5 linked regions of the Homo sapiens genome follow. The protein of the gene in region 1 purifies or fractionates together with the protein of each later gene. This does not show direct contact. Each region holds a gene or a part of one and is shown in the gene's direction. Other genes may lie near its edges. The genes, in order: CD276, SLC37A3, TSPAN15, MVP and ECI1.

The links.
Region 2: the proteins of CD276 (region 1) and SLC37A3 fractionate together in Homo sapiens (co-fractionation; one large-scale study listed by BioGRID). This does not show direct contact.
Region 3: the proteins of CD276 (region 1) and TSPAN15 purify together in Homo sapiens (co-immunoprecipitation; one large-scale study listed by IntAct). This does not show direct contact.
Region 4: the proteins of CD276 (region 1) and MVP purify together in Homo sapiens (affinity purification with western blotting; one study listed by BioGRID). This does not show direct contact.
Region 5: the proteins of CD276 (region 1) and ECI1 fractionate together in Homo sapiens (co-fractionation; one large-scale study listed by BioGRID). This does not show direct contact.

Annotation. Positions count from the first base shown.
Region 1 is NC_000015.10:73,682,222-73,687,502, forward strand, and holds the start of CD276 (CD276 antigen isoform a precursor), read left to right. Parts: upstream 1-2,161; 5' UTR 2,162-2,239; exon of another isoform or gene 2,240-2,678; intron 2,679-3,997; exon of another isoform or gene 3,998-5,281. UniProt on the Homo sapiens protein: May participate in the regulation of T-cell-mediated immune response. May play a protective role in tumor cells by inhibiting natural-killer mediated cell lysis as well as a role of marker for detection of neuroblastoma cells.
Region 2 is NC_000007.14:140,346,013-140,350,709, reverse strand, and holds part of SLC37A3 (sugar phosphate exchanger 3), read left to right. Parts: intron 1-1,942; coding exon 1,943-2,084; intron 2,085-4,697. UniProt on the Homo sapiens protein: Unlike the other SLC37 members, lacks glucose-6-phosphate antiporter activity.
Region 3 is NC_000010.11:69,502,699-69,506,246, forward strand, and holds part of TSPAN15 (tetraspanin-15), read left to right. Parts: intron 1-1,739; coding exon 1,740-1,787; intron 1,788-3,425; coding exon 3,426-3,542; intron 3,543-3,548. UniProt on the Homo sapiens protein: Part of TspanC8 subgroup, composed of 6 members that interact with the transmembrane metalloprotease ADAM10.
Region 4 is NC_000016.10:29,840,532-29,845,228, forward strand, and holds part of MVP (major vault protein), read left to right. Parts: intron 1-1,064; coding exon 1,065-1,309; intron 1,310-1,383; coding exon 1,384-1,581; intron 1,582-3,961; coding exon 3,962-4,348; intron 4,349-4,697. UniProt on the Homo sapiens protein: Required for normal vault structure. Vaults are multi-subunit structures that may act as scaffolds for proteins involved in signal transduction. Vaults may also play a role in nucleo-cytoplasmic transport.
Region 5 is NC_000016.10:2,248,438-2,253,924, reverse strand, and holds the start of ECI1 (enoyl-CoA delta isomerase 1, mitochondrial isoform 1 precursor), read left to right. Parts: upstream 1-2,337; 5' UTR 2,338-2,358; coding exon 2,359-2,410; intron 2,411-2,495; coding exon 2,496-2,609; intron 2,610-5,487. UniProt on the Homo sapiens protein: Key enzyme of fatty acid beta-oxidation. Able to isomerize both 3-cis (3Z) and 3-trans (3E) double bonds into the 2-trans (2E) form in a range of enoyl-CoA species, with a preference for (3Z)-enoyl-CoAs over (3E)-enoyl-CoAs.

The DNA of each region.
Region 1 (5,281 bases):
CTGTGCCCTGCCCAAGCTGTTTCCCCCTCCTAGGGGATCAGAGCCCTCTCAATCTGCTGCTTCCAGGAATGAGAGCCAATACACATTTCCTTCCCTCCTGACCTCTGCTCTTGAATGATTATTTTAAAATCTCCCCCCATAGACACACTATAAACTGCTCTGTGATGTTCCTTCACTGTCCACCATGGCTGAGTCATGCCAGATTATAAATCCCTTAGGACAGGACCAGCGTCACCACCGCAAGGCACAAGGCACAGGACTGACTCTTTGTGAAGGGAAGGAAAGTAAGTTTCTCTAGATCTGTTCAATGCCACCTCCAGGGTCCTGCAGCAGGGCTCCTAGCTCCCTCAGCCCAAGGACACCTCTCCATGTGATGCTACTTCCCCAGGTTGCTGGGCCAACTGGAGGCTACTCATCCTGAGACCTGTAAGGCCAGACCCAGGCTGGACGAGGCTGGTCAGGGCCTGGCAGGGCAGTGGGGAGCAGCGTGGAATGGTCCAGAGTTCCTGGAGGTGGTCAGGGACAAGACAGCTGGGCCTCTCTGCTGTCATCCCTAGGAGCAGTCAGCAATTACACAGACACAGCTGCTGTGTGATTCAAAGACACATATGCACGTAGACTCAAATACAGAGTTGCTTGAATGTGTTCACAAATATACACACCCGGCCGGGCGCGGTGGCTCACGTTTGTAATCCCAGCCCTTTTGGAGGCCAAGGCGGGTGGATCACAAGGTCAAGAGATCGAGACCATCCTGGCCAAAATAGTGGTGCGCACCTGTAATCCCAGCTACTCTGGAGGCTGAGGCAGGAGAATCGCTTGAACTCAGGAGGCGGAGGTTGCAGTGAGCCGAGATTGAGCCACTGCACTCCAGAGCCAGACTCTGTCTCAAAAAAAAAAAAAAGACAAAAACCCCCCACAAATATACACACCCATGCACCACCACCCCTACCCATACACCACACGCACACTTAAATTCAGAGGGCAAATCCCGGTTCCTCCCTTCATAGCTATGTGTCCCCAAGTTACTTAATCTCTTTGTATCTTAATTTCCTTATTTCCGATCTGTAAAAATGAGAATAATGGTATTCACCTCAATGAGTTGTTGTGAAGATTAAATGAGATAAAATGGTAAAGAGCTTACAACAGTGGCAACACATGCAGAGAGACGCACATGTTTTCATACTCATTTCCCAAGCCCTGCCCAGTACTGCCACTGGCACTGGTGGTGAGCCTGGCAGCAGTACAAGGTTGGAGTCCCTTCATCCCTTTGAGCCTTGGTTTTCTCATCTGTGAAATGGGAATAATAATATCTAGCCGGCGGGGCTGTTTGGAGGAACTAAAGAGGCCCAGCATGGAAAGCTCCTAACCTAACTCTGGCCCACAAAAGTCTCCCTACGTTTTAGCTGTCACTGTCCCTGTGAGGAAGAACAGATCCAAGAACAGGTGCAGGGATGGGCTGCACCACAGCAAAATCTGGACAGGCCCGACCCCCATCTCCTCCCAGGCTGGAGCGGGGCCCTGTAAGGACAGAGCCCAAGGCCACTAGGTGTCAGGCCTGTTGGAGCCAAGTCCGGCCAGCAGTCTGGGGTGGGGCTGGGGGCAGGGCTGGTCGGATGGCCGTGGGTGGAAGGAAAAGAGGAAAACCAGCTCAGTGGAAATTGTCCTGCGGTTGGCTCAGGCGCCCACGACACTGTATTTATAGAGAGCTCCTTGCAGCTCTTAATTCCTCGCAGTCGAGTTAACCCTTTCTGGGCTGTGGTGCCAGCATGGTGTGGAGGAAGAACCCAAGACTGGGGTTGGACAGCAGGATTCCAGCCCTGTTCTGCCGCCAGTCGATGACCAGTCAGTCACCTATCCCCTCTCGCAGAAAGGAAGATTCGGCTCTTGGAAGTGTGGGAACGGGGTGGGGGATGGGCAGCGCCCTGCTCCGGGAGCCGAGGGTTTTCCCCGCCAGGGTCAGGCCTGGGGGCGGGGCGGGGCGGGGGCGGGGGCCAGGCCGTGTGCTCTGCCCAGCGGGCTGGCTCAGGCCTCGGTCAGCAGCCGCCACCGCGGGGCCAATCCGGCCTCAGGGACGCACCGGAGCCGCCTTTCCGGGCCTCAGGCGGATTCTCCGGCGCGGCCCGCCCCGCCCCTCGGACTCCCCGGGCCGCCCCCGGCCCCCATTCGGGCCGGGCCTCGCTGCGGCGGCGACTGAGCCAGGCTGGGCCGCGTCCCTGAGTCCCAGAGTCGGCGCGGCGCGGTGAGTGCTGGCGTGGCGCGGGCGGCGCGGGGTGGGGCGGCCTTTGTCTGCTGCGGGCCGGGCCTGGATCCCGCGGAGGTCCGCACGTTCCCGCTCAGGGCTGCAGGAGCTGAGCAGGGCGCCTTCCCTCCGGGCTCCTGCTCCCCTGCCCTCCCCCAGGTCCGGGCGGCCCCCCTCGCACAGGAGTCCCGGGAACCGCGGGCGCCCCTCCTGCCCTGGGCTGTGGGGCCCGCGGAGAGCTGGGGGCTCCCGGATCCTACCCCGCCCCCCTTTCCTCGGGTTGAGAGGGGCCCGGGCGCCGTCGGACCTGCAGACCCCGGAAGCTGCGGACCGGGCCGGGTGGGTGAATGCGCTTTTGCAGGCCCCGGGTCTGGAGCGGGCATGGGGGCAGATCTGTCCCGTGTTGAAGCTTAACGAAGCCACCGGCCGGCGCTGGGAGGTTAGCGGGGTCTCGGGTCCTGCAGAGGAAAACGCCCAGCTCCGGGAGGGGAGCGGCGGGGAGGGAAGGCGAGTGGTTAGGCGTGTCCACTCTGCAGGGCCCAGCAGGGCGAAGGTGTGGGCGACTGGTGCACTTCCACAGGCAGCCGTGGGCAGCATGAGGGGTCAGATTCCGGGAAGGACAGGTAGAGACGGCTGGCAGGGGCCACGGGGTGAATAGGTGTTGGGGGTGGGGAGGGAATTGGGATGGGCAGTTTGGGCTTGGGAAGCCTCAGGGAGGTGGGGGGTGAGGTGGGATGGAGAGGAGATGCGGGCGACGGTGGAGGGAGGTGGGGACCCCGAGTGGGGGCACACTAGAAGGGAGGGGATTGAATTCCAGCGCCCAGGGCCCTCCCTGCGACCGTTTAGCTAGCGAATTGGCAGGTTTGGCAGCCTAAGGCAGGGGATTTATTTCTAAGCCAAACCTGCTCTAATGAGAAAAGCGTGATAGATGACTCAGATATGGGATCTATCACTGAGGGAAAACATTAAGCAAATAGTAAAGCAAAAAAGATTTGTGTGTGTGTGTGTGTGTGTGTGTGTGTGTGTGTGTGTGTGGCGGGTGGGGGGGTGTTAGTTGTCTTAATTTAGAAAAACGATTTACCTTCAAATTGGATGTGGATAATTGTAAATGAGTCTGATCTCTTCATTAAAGCCCGGGGTCCTTTTCTTATAAGCATGTCTTCAGCAGTTAGTTTCTATATTAGAAAGTAATGAAGCTGCTTTGTCTTTAAGAGAGTTCTTTATTTAGTGCGGCCTCCTCTAGTTCCCTCTGGCCTCCCAGAAGTCCCTAGGAAATCTGATGCTGTGCAGCCTTCCTTGTAGTGTGGGGGACTGCAAATAGGTGGGACAGTTTGAGGCTGAGGGGAACTGAAGTCTAAACTTGAAGTCTAAACCTGTCCGATGGGTTGAGCTGATCTGAGTGCAGGGCAGGATGGAGGGCTATGGGGCTGTAGGGTATGAAGTGGCTCATTTCAAGGGAGTATTTTGGGTGAGTACATTTTCCTGATATCTGGAGTTCTTGAGATTAAGCACTAACACTTAGGGTAACTGTTGACCGTGGAAATTTACATACGTCACCGTCAGCTTACTGGAGTATCCTGATGTGAATGAAATTTTCCTTCATGACTTTGGGTCAGCCCTGTGGACCTCAGTTTTTGTTCTGAGGGGTTGTATGGCAAGGGGACGCTGGCGGGAGAGAGCTTCGTTCCTGCATTAAGTGGCCTCAGTGATGCAGTCAGGGTCCCATGACTGACCTTTGGAGTTCTTCCATGTCCTTATGGCATTACTGGTGGTTTCTCCTGCCTGCAGTAAGCTTTCCAGCTTACTCTAGACTCCTGTGCTGTGAGACATGAGCTTGTCAGAGGTAAGGAGCCTGTGTTAATGCAAGTCTCAGGTGAGAAGGGGTGTTGGAATCTGAGGACCCTGTTTTCCTTCCTGTCCCCTCTTCAGCTCTGTCCAGGCACCACCCGATGGAGGGTTGGCTGAATGTCTCATGTTCATATACCTGACAGCTGGCTTCGGTGCTTTAATATTTATGGAAAGGACAGTTATAGAAGTGTGGTCCCTTCAAAGTAGTCCTCTGGGGTGTCTGTGTCCTTATTAGGTTGACTTCTGAAACTTCCTGTGAGAATTCCATCATTAAACTTTGGCTTTCTCTGGAGGGGTAAATCTTTGTTCTTTGGAGTAGGATTTGAGTTTGACAAGGAGCTGGACAATGCTGTTTGGAGTCAGAGATGCAGTGTGATAAGAGAGCTGTGAGTTGGAATTCCACAGCACCTAAAGAGACTCCTAGAAAATGTTGTAGAACAAGTGGCTGGATGGTACTTGGTTGCACATACGGGGTTTGGGGTCTGTGCAGAAAAATGACCAAATCCAAGCAGCCTCTGAGATTATGACCACATGGGGGCTGTTAAGCTGTGGATCTGAGTCATAGGGTCAGGGAAAGAGGAAAAATGGCAAGGAGGATGACGTTACTGCCCATGAGCTTATCCTCTGAGTGGGTGGCGACTTCTCATTGTCCTTTTCCCACATCCCCAGGGCAGGAGTGTTAGGGAAGTCCACCAGCAAAAGGGGGAGGGCACACCCAGGGCCTAGGGGAGGGGGAGAGGGGTGAGGACTGGTCCACATGATTTTTGAGAAATTGCCTTTGGTCTTGTTGGCTCAGAATGGACCCCACACCTGGAAGGGGGCCACGTGTACAGTTATGCAACCCTTGCCTGCCACCCCCAGTTCTACCGCCCTTGCAGTGTGCCAGATAGGAGCATTGGGTTTTCAGGTTTGGGAGTGGGTAGGGTTGTGCTGGAGGCTAAATAGACATTATCTCATGTAATCCTCATAGTAATCCTATGAGGTAGGGTATCATTAACACCATTGTACAGTTGGGGAAACTGAGGCCCAGAAAGGGTAAGTCACATGCCCAAAGACACACAGCCGGCAAATGGTGGAGCTGGGCTGTTGTCTGCTTCCAGAACTGGCTTTTTCTGCTGCTCTGGAGGTAGGCACAGGTTTTACCCCTCTTTCTGGAGCCCGGTAAGATGTGCCAAGGGTCTCCTTAGTAAGTCA
Region 2 (4,697 bases), on another chromosome or scaffold:
TCACTGCAACCTCTGCCTCCCGGGTTCAAGCGATTCTCCTGCCTCAGCCTCCCGAGTAGCTGGGATTACAGGTGCATGCCACCATGCTTGGCTAATTTTTTGTATTTTTAGTAGAGACAGGGTTTCACTGTGTTAGCCGGGATGGTCTCCATCTCTTGATCTCATGGTCTGCCCACTTTGGCCTCCCAGAATGCTGGGATTACAGGCGTGAGCCACCGCGCCTGGCTTGCCCCCTTTTAAAGGGTCCAGAAGAGAGCACTCCACAGTCTTTCTTGGTAATGCATTCCAGTGTTTTCCACAGCCTGTGCAGTCAGGAAAGCCTTCTAACGTCTACACTAAATCCCTTCTGCTGCAGTTTTTCTGTCTTGATGTTTCGGGCACTCTAGCACTGGAGTGGAAGTTAAGAGGCCTAGGTTATGTTTCCAGCTTACCCACTAACTTTCTGTGACACCTGGGGTGAGTCACGCAACCCGTCCGTGTGTCTCAGTTCCCCTTCCCATGGAATAGAAATTATTCCACTCTTCCCTGGGGCCTGTAACATTGGGCTGTTGTGTTTTGAACAAGCACCTGTTGTTATTTCATTTGTCAATGGTGCTTTATGAATGTGATCCCTCAGGTAGAGTGATCTGTAGGCCATCTTAATACATGCCTGTCAATCCCCTTCTGTCAGTGCCTCCAAGCTGAGAGAACTAACATTTCCAACAAAGTTAAGTATGAATTAAAATGTAATTTTCCACAATTCTTTAACCCAGTGATGATATATGATATAAGAGAAATGCAGGTTGCTTTAGACCTGTTCTTATGCTATTGATTATTATCTTTTAACTGGTTTTTAAAGTACTCTGCTGGTAATAGTTTAATTTTTGAGAAAGAACTTTGTCGTGACTAAATATGGACCTCTTTTGCTGTTCCTTTGTTCTTCACAAGCTATTGTTCTCTGACATGGGCAGGGATGTAAAGGAAATCTAGTTAACTTAATTCCTTTGTCTTTGTAGCAGGCTGTCTGGTCAGAATGCACTCGTGATTGGGATTTGGCTCTCTAGGGGGTGGCTGTTGCCTGCCAGGGAAGCTGTTTTAAAACAAGTGATACCTAGGGAATAACTGGCAGCTCCAGGGAAAAGAATATACTAGCCAGACACCCTTTGAAGTCAGCCCCTCTGTCCCCCCCCCCTTTTTCCTTTGATGCTGAATGTCAGGATTTCCTGGTAGTAATGTGTTGAATATAGGAGTCTCAGCCCCACCACCATCTTCATGCAGCTGCAGCATTTTTTTCCCCTCAAGGGAGAGCCACGAGGCCGATGATGACATGTTCTTTCATTTTTGACTCGCCAGAGAGACTCTCTTCTTTGCCACCAGACCAGGGAATGTGGAGCTTTTGAAAACTAGTGTGAAAGGAATTATCATGCTGCTGCTTTTCTTAGACCGTGGAACTGTAGTGTAGTCCCTTTGCTGTCCATTGTTCACAGTGTTGCCTTGGCAAGGAGTAGAATAACCAACCCCGTTTGGCTGCTCCCAGTAAAGGCCGTGATGCTTCCTGGACTTCTTTGCCTATGGTTAACGCTGGTTAGTGGCATGAATACCATTCCTCTTTGTGTGAATAAAGAAATATGGGTATGTGCTCTGCCTTATAGGTTCAAAACACTGGCTTGCTTCTACCAGAGAACTGATAGGAGGAGAAACTGGACACAGCTAAGAAGTAGCCATAGGTGTTTTTTATTCCAAAGGCCTGCTGTACATGCCTGTCTAGAAGTTAACAGGGATGAAGAGCAGAGGGAGACTAGCTGAAGTCAGGCATGTGGGAGTTTGTAGAGATGTTTAACTGTAAAATCAGGTTCTGTTCATCCTAACTTCCTTTATTTTGTTTTGCTTTTAAATGACATTAAAAATGGTAGTCGTGCTGTGCTATTTGTCCCTCGCTGATAGTTGAATGCTTTTCTTGTAGTACTCACTGGCCTACGCCTGCTTGAAGTTAGTGAATTACTCCTTCTTCTTCTGGCTCCCCTTTTATCTGAGTAACAACTTCGGCTGGAAGGAGGCGGAAGCCGACAAGCTGTCCATTTGGTACGACGTTGGAGGGATCATAGGTATGCCGGTGATACATCTTTTCCATAATAAAGAGTTAGTCACTAGTGATCTTTTACTGGGTTGTGAAATCTGGCCTCATTTAAAGTTTTATTACTTATTCTACAGCCATTTTCCCTAAACTGTCCTACTAGTAAACAGCCAAACTCAAAAAAAAAAAAAAAAGAAAAGAAAAGAAAAGAAAAAACAAGAGGTCCATAGAAAGGAAGACCTAGCCTAAGGCAGCGCTGTGATTTATTGGACTCTTTTTTCTTAGTCCTTTGTTGATGGATCAGTTCTTTTGTCTCGGGAAGCACATGGGAATCTCTTTAAATGCAATCCTTTCATACGGCTTTCTCAGTGATATCTTAGCTCTAAAGCTAATTGTATGTCAGAGATCCAAGTTAGAATATGAACGTGTTCATTGTATCTACCTCCCACCTTCCCCACCTTCCCCAGCCTAATAAGGAAGAATACACCAGTCCCCCACTTATCTGTGGTTTCACTTTTCGAAGTTTCAGTTACTCTTAATACCGTACAATAAGATATTTTCAGAGAGACCATTCATATAACTTATGTTACAGTATATTGTTATTATTTTCTATTTTGTCGTTATTGTTAATTTCTGTGCCCAACTTATAAATTAAACTTGATCGTGGGTATGTATGTATAGAAAAAAACATAGTATGTATAGAGTTTGGTACTGTCTGTGGTTTCAGGTATCCACGGGGGTCATGGAACATATCTGCTGAGGATAAAGGGGAAATACACCTTAGTGTGTAGGTCGTCAGATCATAGAGGTAGACGTAACAGCAGGGATTAATTTTTGTGAATGTTTTACAGTTGTTTCATTATAAACAAAGATTTTAATAGTGGTTTTTTTTTTTTTTGCTGTAGCTAGAAGTATCAACAAGGAGGTAATAAGTATGAACAAGGAAGTAAGGCAGAGGAGCAGAATGTATTTTAGTGGGTATTACTTACATGGCTGTGCCAGATCTTAATAACCTTCAATAATGTTAACATTTAGAATTGTGGTGAGACTCAACTGCCGTGAGCTTGTGAAAGCACACAGTCTGTGCTAGGCAATCTGCTATTACTGTATTTGAACTTGGCTGCCCGTATTCTTAAATCCAGAGCCAAAGGTGAGGTTGCCACCGTTAGACCTCACCATATTCTGTATCCTCTGAAGTTGAAATTGTCCAGCTGCCTGCTATCTGATAAGGACACACCAGATGTCCAATAGCCCCTACAACTCAGAATGGTGCTGTATGTGACATTGTTGCTTGAAAGATTCATATCCCTGCTTTTTAAAGATTGTGTCCTATTAGCAAACCATAACTGCTAAATTTTATTTTAGTGAATATTTACTAGCCACTTTTTTTTTTCTTTTTTTTTTTTTTTGGAGATGGGGGTACTGCTCTGTCGCCCACGCTGGAGTGGCACGATCTTGGCTCACTGGAGCCACAACCTCCTGGGCTCAAGCGATCCTCCCTAAGTACCTGGGGCTACAGTCATGCACCACCACACCCAGCTAATTTTTTTGTATTTTTTGTAGAGATGGCATTTCACTGTATTGCCCAGGCTGGTCTCAAACTCCTGAGCTCAGGCAATTTGCCCACCTCGGCCTCCCAGAGTGCTGGGATTACAGGCGTGAGCCACTGTGCCCACCTACTGGCCTCAATATACTGTAAGGCACAGTTTTTTTGGTTTTTGAGACACGGTCTTGCTCTGTTGCCCAGGCTAGAGTGCAGTGGCACAATACAGCTCACTGTAGCCTCAGCCTCCTGGGTTCAAGCAGCACGATACGGTTCACCACAGCCTCAACCTCCTGGGCTCAAGCCATCCTCCTACCTCAGCCTCCCAAGTAGCTGGGAATATAGGCACGTGCTACCATGCCCGGCTAATTTATCTTTTATAGAGATAAGGGCACTGTGTTGCCCAGGCTGGTTTTGAACCCCTGGCCTCAAGCAGTCCCCCAGCCTTGGTCTCCCAAAGTGCTGGGATTATAGGCATGAGCCACCATGCCCAGCAAGGCATAGTTCTTAATTCATTATCTTTCAAATTAAAAAGAAAAATCAAAAATAGCATTCACAACTTGTTTTTGTAAGGGATAGCCGATGGCTTTGACAGTTTTTCCTTTTTTCATGTTTTGCTGTCTGATTTGTGGTCTCCTGTCCCCACTGGTCATCATGGTGATTTAACAGACAGTTTATTCCTAAAAGGAAGTTATGGAGGACCCCTTTTCAGGGAGTCAGACCTATTTTTTTTTGAGACAGAGTCTCGCTCTGTCACCCAGGCTGGAGTGCAGTGGCGCAATCTCGGCTCACTGCAAGCTCCGCCTCCCAGGTTCACACCATTCTCCTGCCTCAGCCTCCTGAGTAGCTGGGACTACAGGTGCCCGCCACCACGCCCGGCTAATTTTTTTGTATTTTTAGTAGAGACAGGGTTTCACTGTGTTAGCCAGGATGGTCTCCATCTCCTGACCTTGTGATCCACCTGCCTCAGCCTCCCAAAGAGCTGGGATTACAGGTGTGAGCCACCGAGCCCGGCCCAGCCATATTTTTTGATAGACTAGTGTCAGGCTGCTGCTAGTGAGACTAGAGGGCAAATGGGGAGCACGCCTCAGGTGAGCGAGC
Region 3 (3,548 bases), on another chromosome or scaffold:
GAGGGGCTCTCCTGGCAGGGTGAGGTGAGTCCCCCCTGGGCCTGGAGAAGGGTTCTGGGCTCTGATGCCAGAGAGGCCTCTGCCAGTTGCCTGTGTGCTAAGAGACTCATCCCCCGAGGTCACCAGAGCTGGCCCAGTGAAGTCACTCTTGTCACCTCCCTACGTACCATGCAGCTTACCTATTTGTTATGTTCATTATCTCCCTTTCTACAGTGTAAGTTCCATGAAGGCAGGGACTTTGTCTTGTTGTTCTGTATTTCAAGTGACTAGAACTGGGATTGACATGCAATAGGTGCTCAGTTAATATTTGTTCAATGAACAAATGAATGAACCAATGAGATGGAAAGCACTCACTCCCATCATGTGCCCGTGCACCTGCTCTCCAGGCCTGACCCTCTCCATAGGGGTTGTGTTTATGGCCTGGAAGGGCCAAAAACACTGGCTGACTAATGCCCAGTGGGCACTGGGCATGGCTGGGACTGAGGCTACCTGGAGAACCAGCTAAACCGAGGGAGGTCGTCTTGCCTGCACATCAAGCCCTGACATTTAGAATGACCTAGATGACATCTGAGGCCCAACCCTCTCTCGGAAGGAGAGAAGACACCCTCCCTTTCCTTTGCAGGGGCTGGAATTGTGAACAAATCACGCCAGCCAGCATTCTTGTGCTCCTCCATGTGCCCAGCCCCGTGATAAGCACTTTATATGTGTATCTCACTTTATGTCCAAAACAGCCCTAGGAGGTGGGTTCTGTGATCATCACAACCTATTCATTCATTCATTTTCTCAGTTAACAAATATGTATTGAGTACCTCTGCGTGCCAGTTCCTTAGCAGCCCACCTAAGGTTGGGCTCTGCTCCTAAGTGGCAGAGCAAGATCTGGACCCAGGAAATGTGACACCAGAGGGCACGCTGGGGGCTCTGCTGTTGCCCTCCTGAGTCATCACTGGCGCCTGCAGCACTCACGGCAGCGTTCACTTACATGTAGAGCAGCGGGGCTGGGGGGGACGGTCATGGGCTGGACCAGGAAGTCTCACTCTCTTCCCTGGTGGTTGGAGAAGGAGACCCTGCGGGGCACAGGTGGTGATGGGAAGTGCCCGCGGCAGCCTGTGAGTTAGGGCCTGCCTGGGGAGGGGTTTGATGAGGTCTAGGGCGTGACCACAGGTTTCCCTATGCCTAAATTAATCAGTAGTCGGGAGTTCTGGAGAGCACCTCTCTTCCCAAGAAGGAAGTTTTGGCAGCACTCTCCGCTGGTGGAGCAGTGGTCTATGGAACGGAAGCATGGCCAGGGGCCCTGCCCTGGACCTCAGGTAAACCACAGCTGACCCTGTGCCAGCTGTAGTCTGAAGTTTTCCTCCCCAAGAGCCAGCGGCGCAGGAACAGCCCCACCCCGACCTCTGAGACGGTGTGAGCAAAGCGGTGCTCTGGGGCGGTCATAGCCCGGGAGCGTGGGCAGCACACCTTTCTCTGGGGTCCTGATCTGCTGCTAGTGGAGGGGTGGTTCTCCCAGGTAAAAGTCATGGAACCTGCATTCCTACAGTTTTTTCACGGGGCATTTCTTGGAGGAGGAGGTGGTTATGATGGAGACTCAAGCCAGACTGCCTGGGTCGGAATCTCAGCTCCATCCCTGCTGGACGGTGCAACTCTGTGCTTCGGTTTTCATCTGTAAAATGGGTAGGATAATAGTGCCTTTTTGAGTTAGAACCATTATAAATATTAGCTATTATACATTTCCATTTCAGACAGAAGTTGTCAACACCATGTGTGGCTACAAAACTATCGACAAGGAGGTAATGTCTTTGAAATGCCTTTCCCTGGAAATGTTGCTCTTCCTGGTCCACCCTGGGGTGATCGGAGGGGTTTATTGAGGTCGGGGTCCTGGCCACTGAGATTTTCCCACATTCCTGGCTGTGACCCAGAGCCAGGACTGCTGTGGTTTTCCACCCCAGCACAGAAGGGCTCAGGGAACCAAGAATTCCCCCAGGCTGGGAGATGCCGCCTGTCAGGGTTTGCCGAGCACCTACTGTGGGCTGTTCCACATGAAGCCACCACGGCGCTTCCTGGTACCCGCAGCGTGCTGTGTGCCCAGCCATGCTCAGCACCAGCTTGCCTCTGCCCCTGGGGCCACCTGGGACCCAGGAGTCCTAGAGGATGGTAACCCCCTCTGGGGGTTGCTCCTGGGTCAGCTTCCTGGGCAACACCCCTGGTCTAGGAGAGAAGCAGGGGTGGTGCTGAGAAGGGACCTAAAAGGAATAGTGACCTGACATGCAGAGCAGTGGCTTTCAAAGTGGGGTCCCCAGTCCAGCAGCAACAGCATCCCCTAGGAATGTGAGAAATGCACATTCTTGGTATGGGGCTAGTGGGTGATTCTGACACATGCTTGAGAGCCATAGACCAGCAGTGGTTCTCAGCCCCTCAGAACCAATGGCCATTTTTATAACAAACAGTGGTAATGTCCTATTTATTATCCCCAAGTGAAATTCACAGATAACCTACCTACATGCCCAATTCCAATACAATTAACATAATGATCTGAGATAAAGTAGAAATGAAATACAGCAATTTACAGCTGTTTAACATAGTTCATCATGTAAGTGCTTAGGCAGTGGGGGGTGCAGAAGACACAATGTAGTCAGGTGTCTGCACTGATGTGAGGCATCCCTGAGGCTGTAGTAGCTACAGGGCAGCTGATACTGGGCATTGTGTTGGCGACTCACATACCATGGGCATCATTTTTGCCACTGGCATGGTTTTTAAAAACGGTGAACAATTCTTGATAAAGTTCTGAATTAAATAATGTGTAATCATTCCTTAATTTACCTAGTAGTACTTCTGGAAAATTCTTTGTATATTAAAACCAATGCAGAAATGCTTTTTTTTTTTTTTTCCCTTAAGAGACAGACAGGGTCTCACTGTTGCCTAGGCTGGCCTCAAACTCCTAGGCTTAGGCACTCCTCCCAACTGAGCCTCCATAGTAGCTGGGACTGCAGGCACTGGCCACCATGCCCAACTCTGCTTTGTTTTTTATATGTACCTGGAGTGGGGCTATTGGCTTGGATAATTATAAATAGGCTTTTCATGTATGGAAAACATCCGTGAGGCTTTTCATGCAGGGACATCTGAGAAGCACACAGGCAGGGCAGTTGTTTGTGGAGTAGGATTACCCTGAGCTCTGCAGTCCCTCAGCCGCCAACCTCGTTTGCTGGGGCAACCAAAAGTGCCACCACGGTGTCCCCAGTCCTCTCTAGAGAACAGTACTGTCCATTAAGAATCAGAATCTAGGGTCACCTTCTCATGCTGCATATGGGAAACTGAGGATCACAGCGGTTGAGGGACTAGCCTGGACCTTGTGTACATGGCAGAGTCGGGGCTGTGGCTCCTGCCAGCCGAGGTCCTCTGCTGGGCTGACCCAGCTCCTTCCCATGCAGCGTTTCAGTGTGCAGGATGTCATCTACGTGCGGGGCTGCACCAACGCCGTGATCATCTGGTTCATGGACAACTACACCATCATGGCGGGCATCCTCCTGGGCATCCTGCTTCCCCAGGTGGGC
Region 4 (4,697 bases), on another chromosome or scaffold:
GAAGAGGTGGGCAGGGACTTCAGCAGCATGGAGAGCCATATCAGGTGGGCTGTCTGGTTGGGGGAGGGCACTACGTGGAGTGTTTGCCATCCTTCTGCCTTAAATGTCTCATTTGAAATGTTAGAACCAACCAGGTGCGGTAGCTCACATCTGTAATCTCAGCACTTTGGGAGGCCGAGGCGGGCGGATCACCTGAGGTCAGGAGTTCAAGACTAGCCTGGCCAACATGGGAAACCCTGTCTCTACTAAAAGTACAAACATTAGTCAGGCGTGGTGGTGGTCTGAGTAGTCCCAGATACTTGGGAGGCTGAGACAGGAGAATTGCTTGAACTGGGAAGCGGAGGTTGCAGTGAGCCGAGATCACACCACTGCACTTCAGCCAGGGTGACAGAGTGAGACTCTGTCAAAAAAAAATATTAGCATGTCCACTGAGAGGACAAGTGGGGGTTTAGGACAGGGACCCTTTCCCACAGCAGACCTGGTTTCCAGCATAAAGGTCTGATGGGGTGGCCAGGGAACAGGAAGGACCTCCTCCCTCATGCCCATATCCCGGTGGAATCTTTCATTTTTTTCTGCTTCACCTAAAACCTTGACCTTGATTTGACCTCGGGCCACATCTCCAACCTTCTCTAAGAATCCAAGCTGGAAGTCCAGCTTGGAATCCGAGGGAGCATCCGTGTACACAGCCTACTTCACCATCCCCGAGGTGCCCTCCAAACTGCCCCATGAAGGAAGATTCTAGAAATAACATTGAGCACCTTCTCTATGCCAAGAGCTGTTTGAGCTAGACATGTGAAGATGTCATTCACCCCTAGACCCTGCAAGGTAGCCACCGTCAAGTCCACTTGACACATGAGGAAACTGAAGCCCAAGGGGTGAGGTAGTTAGCCCACGATGACAGGGCCAGCAGATGGCAAACCCGGGGTGGAGCCTGGCCTCCCCGTAGAGAAGGTGTTTAACCTCGTGGCGCGCCTTCCCTGGATGGGCTCTGCTTTGGGACAGCTGGGCGGATCTTCCTCCCTTCCACCCTTACGGGCAGCTTCCCTCCCTGTCCTCGTCCCAAGGTGCGCGCTGTGATTGGAAGCACCTACATGCTGACCCAGGACGAAGTCCTGTGGGAGAAAGAGCTGCCTCCCGGGGTGGAGGAGCTGCTGAACAAGGGGCAGGACCCTCTGGCAGACAGGGGTGAGAAGGACACAGCTAAGAGCCTCCAGCCCTTGGCGCCCCGGAACAAGACCCGTGTGGTCAGCTACCGCGTGCCCCACAACGCTGCGGTGCAGGTGTACGACTACCGAGAGAAGCGAGCCCGGTGAGTGCTGGCAGCGCAGGGTGTAGGGGGTGGCTCTCCATGGGTCTGGCTCTGACCCTCGGCTGTCTCTGCAGCGTGGTCTTCGGGCCTGAGCTGGTGTCGCTGGGTCCTGAGGAGCAGTTCACAGTGTTGTCCCTCTCAGCTGGGCGGCCCAAGCGTCCCCATGCCCGCCGTGCGCTCTGCCTGCTGCTGGGGCCTGACTTCTTCACAGACGTCATCACCATCGAAACGGCGGATCATGCCAGGCTGCAACTGCAGCTGGCCTACAACTGGTAAAAATGGGGACAGGGCATGGGGGTGCATTCCTGGAATCCCAGCACTTTGGGAGGCTGAGGTGGGAGGATCACTTGAGCCTAGGAGGTCCAGGCTGCAGTGAGCCTTGATGGCCCCACTATACTCCAGCCTGGGTGACAGAGCAAGACCCTGTTTCTTTGTTTTTTGTTTTTTTAGTTTTTTGGTTTTTTGGTTTTTTGGTTTTTTTTGAGACCGAGTTTCACTCTTGTTGCCCAGGCTGGAGTGCAATGGCGCGATCTTGGCTCACTGCAACCCCCACCTCCCGGATTCAAGCGAGTCTCCTGCCTCAACCTCCCAAGTGGCTAGGATTACAGGCATGTGCCACCATGCCCAGCTAGTTTTGTATTTTTAGTAGAGATGGGGTTTCTCCATGTTGGTCAGGCTGGTCTCGAACTCCTGACCTCAGGTGATCCGCCTGCCTCGGCTTCCCAAAGTGCTGGGATTACAGGCATGAGCCACTGCACCCGGTCAACCCTGTTTCAAAACAAAAAAAACAAACCGGGTGGCAAGCAGTGGGTGAGGGTTCCTGCTGGGTGCAGCCTAGGAACCCCAAGAAAAGGAGGGTCCTGCTCAAGTGCTGGTGCTGGGCTCCTCATGAAGGCAGGACACCTCATTCAGTGCTGAGGTCAAGAGGGAACCTAGGAGTTCACGCAAATCCAGGGAAGGCGTGGGCTCACCTCCTGGGGTCAGGACTCAGGGATCCAGTAGCAGGACACTACCCCAACTAAGCTCCCAGTGAGCGTGCAGCCAAATGCGTAACTGTCGGGCTGTTAAAAGATGCATGGGACACAGCTGGCGGGAGTGGGCAGTGCAAGGGGGCGGTGAGAACTCAAGTTCAGAAACTGACTGCCCTGGCCTGCGCCCCCGCCCTGCTGTTTGCAGCCTGTGGACCTGGGGAAGGGACAGGGTGCTTTCCTCAGTTTCCCCATCTGTAACATGAGGAAGACAGCATTTTCTCCTTCACAAGGCCATTGAAAAGATGCAATGAGTGTTAGAACAGTGCCTCTATTGGTCAGAGCTCAATAGCAGCTATTAGGATTGGGTGAGATAAGTCATGTACAGAAACAGTGTTCATGACTGGGTACTGTGGCTCACACCTGTGATCCCAGCACTTTGGGAGGCTGTGGCAGGAGGATTGCTTGAGGCCAGGAGTTTGAGACCAGGCTGGGCAACATAACAAGACTCTGTTTCAAAAAAAAAAAATTTATAAACTAGCTGGGCATGGTGGTACATGTCTATAGACCCAACTACTTGGAAGGCTGAGGTGGGAAAATTGCCTGAGCCCAGGAATTTGAGGCTGCAGCAAGCTATGATTGTGCCACCACACTCCAGCCTGGACAACAGAGACCCACAGAGACCCTGTCTCGGAGGAAGGGAGGAAGGGAGGAAGGGAGGAAGGGAGGAAGGGAGGAAGGGAGGGAGGGAGGGAGGGAGGGAGGGAGGGAGGAAGGGAGGAAGGGAGGGAGGGAGGGTCAGGCGTGGTGGCTCATGCCTGTAATCACAGCACTTTGGGAGACTGAGGCAGGCAGATCACTTGAGGTCAGGAGTTTGAGACCAGCCTGGCCAACATGGTGAATCCCTGTCTCTACTAAAAATACAAAAATTAGCCAGGCCTGGTTGTGGGCACCTGTAGTCCCAGCTTGTAGTCCCAGCTACTCAAGAGGCTGAGGCAGGAGAATCTCTTGAATCCGGGAGGCGGAGGTTGCAGTGAACCCAGATCGAGCCACTGCACTCCAGCCTGGGCGACGGAGCAAGACTGTCTCCAAAAAGAATATTCAATACTCCCAAGCATGTCCCTCACCTCTTAGCTGAGAGCAGCCAGTGCCCTGATGGCGGCAGACAGCTGCCGACATATTCCCAGGGCTGCCGACATATTCCCAGGCACTACAACATCATAGTTAAGAGCACAGGCCCCAGAAGCAGCTGCCTGGTTCAGCTTTCTGGCTTGTCACATGTTATATGGCAAGTCTTGGGCCAGCCACTTGACTTCCCTGGACCTCTACTTCCTCATCTGTAAAATGGGGGTGGTGATCATTGCCATCTCATAGGGTGGCTGAGTGGGATTAAAGGAGAACGTGTGTTAAGTTTTTAGGACCTTACCAGGCATACATTAGCATTCTCTATTGCGAGAGACCCTGCCCGGCCACACAGGATGGGTGTTGAAGTTCTTCTCGGAGAGAGTTGCTGGCTGGGCGTGATCACACATGTAGTCCCAGCACTTTGGGAGGCTGAGGTTGGGGGGTTGCCTGAGCCCAGGAGTTCAAGACCAGCCTGGGCAACATGGCAAGACCTTGTCTCTTCTAAAGAGAGATTCCTGGGTGAAAGCAGCTTCCCCATTCTGGGCCTGTTTGTTCACAGGCACTTTGAGGTGAATGACCGGAAGGACCCCCAAGAGACGGCCAAGCTCTTTTCAGTGCCAGACTTTGTAGGTGATGCCTGCAAAGCCATCGCATCCCGGGTGCGGGGGGCCGTGGCCTCTGTCACTTTCGATGACTTCCATAAGAACTCAGCCCGCATCATTCGCACTGCTGTCTTTGGCTTTGAGACCTCGGAAGCGAAGGGCCCCGATGGCATGGCCCTGCCCAGGCCCCGGGACCAGGCTGTCTTCCCCCAAAACGGGCTGGTGGTCAGCAGTGTGGACGTGCAGTCAGTGGAGCCTGTGGATCAGAGGACCCGGGACGCCCTGCAACGCAGCGTCCAGCTGGCCATCGAGATCACCACCAACTCCCAGGAAGCGGCGGCCAAGTAAGTGAGGCTGGGAGCTCGGCTGCCTATAATGCCCATGGCAGGCCACTGCTGGGAACTGGATAACCTGGCATCCCTTGTGGACTGCCTGCTGCCATCCCTACCCTCAAAGATCTATTCCCTACCCAACAGATCAGGTGACCCACTTAAAATGTGAATCAGGCTGGGCGCGGTGGCTCATGCCCGTAATCCCAGCACTGTGAGAGGCTGAGGCAGGAAGATCACTTGAAGCCAGGAGTTTGAGGCTGCAGTGAGCCATGATTGCGCCACTGCACTCCAGCCTGGGCAACAGGCCTGGGAGACTGACCCTGTCTCAAAAGAAAAAAAAAAAAAAAAGCACGTATCAGAT
Region 5 (5,487 bases), on another chromosome or scaffold:
ACCCAGCTCAGTTTTGTCACTTTTCTAGCCAAAGGAAGACCAGTAGGAAAGCAAACCCTTGACTCTGGCAGGATTTGCAGGCAGCAGGCAGCACCCCTCTGCCAGCCGGGCCCCGGCTGCAGAAGTGCTGTTGGTTTGGATGCTGTGTGCCTGTCAAGATTCCCTCCGGTTTTCTGGCTAGAAAGCTCATCCGTTTCCGGTTTCTAAGAGTCAGTTCAGTGGCAGAGCCACCAGGGAAAAGTGAGGCTCTTGGGGGTGGTTTGACCCTGCTTACCTGGGAGCACACTTTTCCCTTCCCCGATGACCTGGGATGGTGGCCAGGCCGTGCCCTTGCTGTTGCTGGGCAGTGTCCTTTTGGAAAGGGAGCTGCCCCAGGCTTTAGTGCAGCTGCCAACCCTGTTAGGCCTGGCCTCTCGAGGCCTCTTCTGACCTCAAGGGTCACACCCCCTCAAAGATCCTCTCACCCATGGTAGTTGCTGCTCGTGGTTCTGTCTGTCCGTGCACCGATGCACACACCGCACCCCACCACTGTACTCTGAAATTGGCGAGTGAGTGGAGAGCCAGCTCTGCGGAGTCATCACGCAGCCATGGTTGTGCCTGCCGTTCATGGTGGTCTTTCAGGTTATCTTGGCAACATGTACATTGCTTTTATTTTTTTTCTTTTTTGCTTTCATTGTACAGTCAGTACTATAAAATTTCTCTTTTGAGTTTTATACCTTTGTAGCATTTTAGATGACATTGTGTTTGTACTTTGTTGTGTAGAGTGGAAGAATTGTGTTGAATAAACCCAAGATCGGAATGCAAATCTAGTTCTGGGTTCACTGCCTTCTCACTTGTCCCCTCGCCCCTAGTAACTTTCTGTTCCTCACCATCCGCAGTGGCACCTCCGATGCTTTCAGCCAGGAGAACCTAGGGTTTGTGTGCTGTGGGGACCAGGTTGCTCCTAGGGTGGACAAATAGAAGGAGATGGTTTTATCGCCACCTTGGAATGTGTGTGTGTTTTCAGACAGACTCTCGCTCTGTCACCCAGGCTGGAGTATGTACCATGGTGCGATCATAGCTCATTACAGCCTCCAACTCCTTCTTCAGTGTCCAGAGTAGCAGGGGCTAATTTTTTTTTAATTTTTTAATTTTTTTTTTGAGACAGTCTCTGTTGCCTGGGTTGGAGTGCAGTGGCGCAATATTGGCTCACTACAACCTCTGCCTCCTGGGTTCAAGTGATTTTCCTGCCTCAGCCTCCTGAGTAGCTGGAATTACAGGCACCTGCCACCATGCCCAGCTAATTTTTTGTATTTCTAGTAGAGACGGCGTTTCATCATATTGGCCCGGCTGGTCTCAAACTCCTGACCTCATGATTTGCCCACCTTGGCCCCCAAAGTGCTGGGATTACAGGCATGAGCCACCGCGCCCAGCAGCAGGAGCTAATTTTTAAGAATTTTTTGTAGCAACAAGTTGTTGCTATGTTACCCAGCTGGTCCTGAGTCACTGGGGTTACAGGTGTGTGTCACCATGCCAGGCTTGCTTCCTCCTCCGTTAAGTGGCCATTTTTCCACCTCAAAAATTGGTTTGGGACACAAGGAAGAATTGGAAATGCTTAAGATGAGAACAAAAGTTGAGACCACCCAACACAGCTGGGACCTTACTGCCCAGTGCTCCCAGTGGTCTGACCAAAACCCCACACCAGACAGTACAAAGGCCCACTCCCGAGCTGCCGCTTACGGCCCAGCGGGAACAGACTGTATTCTTATCTTTCGGCATTTCTCTGCAAATAAAAAGGTGCCACTGCGGTCCGGCCTTTGTGCACTTGCCCTTGTGCTGAGCAAGGCGGGTGGCCTGTTCTTACCGCTGGGTTCTGCTGCCCCCACCCCCATTTCGGTGACTAAACCTGCAGCTCTGATCCTGTTCCCAAAGGGGCAGGAGGCCGGGCTCACCCCAGGCAGCCCCTGGCCTCCCTGACGGCCCCCTCGGGAGGGGTTCCGTGCTTTGATCGCCTTTCCAGCGCCGATACTGCAGTAGCTGGGCCCGGCCGAGAGCTCGCGGTCACGAACACCGGCAGCCTCTTGCCTACAGTGTCCCGCGCTGTAGAAGAGCCTGCCCTGGCGCTGAGCTGGTCGTGGCTGCTTCAGCAGTGGGCCTGCGCCTCCTTGTAGGCCAGCCCTGGCCCAGATCCAGGTGCCTGCCCCGGAAGCGCGCGGCTGCCCGGGGTGAAGCCGGAGGGCGGCGAGCGGCTGTTTCGGCCGGTAGGTGGAGGCGTTGACCAGCCTCTGGGAACGGGGCGGGACCTAGTTGGGGGGGCTCCGCCCCCTCCCCAGGAGGCGAGCTCAGCCCGCGACCTTTATCCCGCGCGTTGCGGTCAAGATGGCGCTGGTGGCTTCTGTGCGAGTCCCGGCGCGCGTTCTGCTCCGCGCGGGTGCGAAACCCGGGGTGGGCAGGGATCGGGCCGGGGCCGGGGCCAGGACCGGGAACTAACGGGCTCCCCCACGCTGCCTTCGCAGGGGCCCGGCTCCCGGGCGCGGCCCTCGGGCGGACGGAGCGGGCGGCCGGCGGCGGAGACGGCGCGCGGCGCTTCGGGAGCCAGCGGGTGCTGGTGGAGCCGGACGCGGGCGCAGGTGAGCGGGCGGCGCCGAGGGAGGGCGGGCGTGGGGTCAGGACCCGCGGGGGTCCGCGCTCGCGGGGTGCTGTCGGAGAACCACGTCTGTCGACGCTCGGTTTGTGTTTAGAACCCAAGTTTCGAAACAGAACCTTGCCGCTCTACCTGGGTTCGTTCGTCATGAGATAAAAGTTTCTGTTTTTAAAGTTGGCGGAGGCCGGGCGCGGTGGCTCACGCCTGTAATCCTAGCACTTTAAGAGGCAGAGGCGGGCGGATCACCTGAGGTCAGGAGTTCGAGATCAGCCTGGCCAACATGATGAAACCCTATCTGTACTGAAAAATACAAAAGAAAAAAATTAGCTGGGCGTGGTGGTGCGTGCCTATGCCTGGGAGGCTGAGGCAGAAGAATCGCTGGAATCTGGGAGGTGGAGGCTGCAGTGAGCCGAGATTGTGCCACTGCACTCCAGCTTGGGCCACAGAGCAAGATTCCGTCTCAAAATAAATAAATAAATAAAAATAAAGTTGGCGGGGATATGAGCTGTTATCTAAGTTATTCAATTGGAAGTGGAAAAGAATTGGAATCTTTTGGAATAAAATTACGTTTGTTAACACTCCCATGTGGCACAGAACCTCGTACCTACCCGCCCGTCAGAACCCTTGGTAAAACCCACTGGAAAGGATAGAAAAAGTACTTTTGGAAGAGAAGCCTGTGCGCTCCCTCCAGACAGGAGGCCGAGCTGAGGGCACCGAGAGGGCACGCCTAGGCGCCAGCAGTTCTGCTTCCAGGACATGCTGACCTGGACCTCCCGGTGCAGCAGTCCCTGCTGTGGCTCCTGAGAGGAGGCCCTCCCCCTCCGCAAGTAAGTCACAGCCCCTGCCCTCCCCAACCCCCCAGACTCAGGGCTGTGCCCAACTTTGCACAGCTTCAGGACTCCAGGCTCCTGGTGCCTCTGAACTTGGTTCCGTCCTCTCTGTCTGGGCTGAGGGAGCTGCCTGGGCTCTCTCTACAAACTTGAGAGGGACAAACTAAGACCAACTTCAAACTGACTTTTTTTTTTTTTTTTTTTTTTTTTGGAGATGTAGTCTTGCTCTCCAGTCGCCAGACTGGAGTGCAGTGGCGCAATCTCCGATCACTGCAACCTGTGCCTCCTGGGTTCAAGCGATTCTCCCTCCTCAGCCTCCCAAATAGCTGGGATTACAGGGACCCACCACTATGCCCACTAATTTTTGTAAAAACTGAGTTTCTGAAGGGATCATTTCTGTAGCATATTTGAATATATCTCAACAAAATGCAAAAAAAAAAATTATTATTTTTTTTTTTTTGAGACAGAGGCTCCCTCTGTCACCCAGGCTGGCGTGCAATGGCGCGGTTCCGGCTCACTGCAATCTCAGTCAGGCCTGACTTTCTGACTCCAAACTCTACTTTGTCTTTTTTTTTTTTTTTTTTTTTTTTTTTTTGAGACGGAGTCTTGCTCTGTCGCCAGGCTGGAGTGCAGTGGCACGATCTCCGCTCACTGCAAGCTCCGCCTCCCGGGTTCACACCATTCTTCTACCTCAGCCGCCCAAGTAGCTGGGACTACAGGCGCCCGCCACCACGCCCGGCTAATTTTTTTTTTTTGGTATTTTTAGTGGAGACGGGGTTTCACCATGTTAGCCAGGATGGTCTTGATCTCCTGACCTCGTGATCCACCCGCCTCGGCCTCCCAAAGTGCTGGGATTACAGGCGTGAGCCACCGCGCCCGGCTTACGTTGTCTTTTTATATGGTAAAGTGGGGAGGCACTCGAGTAAAAAAATTGTCATTGTACGAACACTTTTCCTTTTTTACCGGAGGTAATGTGTGTGTGTGTGTACATAAAAATCTTTAAAATATGCCTCACATTTACCATTCTAGCCATTTTGCAATGTACAACCCCGTGGCCGTAAGTATATTCACAATGTGTAGTCCACACTACCCATTCCAATACCTTAAGATAACATGTTTTTGAGTCCGGGCCCGGTGGCTCCCACCTGTAATCCCAGCACTTTGGGAGGCCAGGGTGCGCGGATCACGAGGTCAGGAGATTGAGACCATTCTGGCTAACACGGTGAAACCCCATCTCTACTAAAAAATACAAAAAAAAATTAGCCGGGCGTGGTGGCGGGCACCTGTAGTCCCAGCTACTTGGGAGGCTGAGGCAGGAGAATGGTGTGAACCCCGGAGGTGGAGCTTGCAGTAAGCCGAGATCGCGCCACTGCACTCCAGCCTGGGCAACAGAGCAAGAATCTGTCTCAAAAATAAATTAATTAATTAAATAAAATAAATAAATAAATAAATAGGAATGACAACCACATGGATGAACCTTGAACACATGATACTAAGTGGACAAAGCCGACAACAAAGCCCGGCGGTATCCCAGTGATATGGAATATGGCTGGAGCAGGAAAACCGCAGACACAGAACGCAGACTGGCGGCTTCCAGGGGCTAGGGGTGGGATGAGGAGCAACTGCTCATGGGGACAGGGATTCCTTTTGGGACAATGAAAAGGTTCTGGAACTAGGCAGCGGCGATAGTTGCACAACACAGTCAGTATACTGAATTGTGTAAGTGCCTGACTTGTTTACTTAAAAATGGCTAATTTAGGCTGGGCACAGTGGCTCATACCTATAATCACATCACTTTGGGAGGCCGAGGCAGGAGGATCACCTGAGGTCAGAAGTTCATGACCAGCCTGGCCAACCTGGTGAAACCCCGTCTCTACTAAAAATGCAAAAATTAGCCAGGCATGGTGGTGTGTCCTGTAATCCCAGCTTCTCAGGAGGCTGAGGCAGAAGAATGGCTTGAACCCAGGAGGCAGAGGTTGCAGTGAGCCGAGATAGCGCTGCTGCACTCCAGCCTGGGCAACAGAGCGAGGCTCT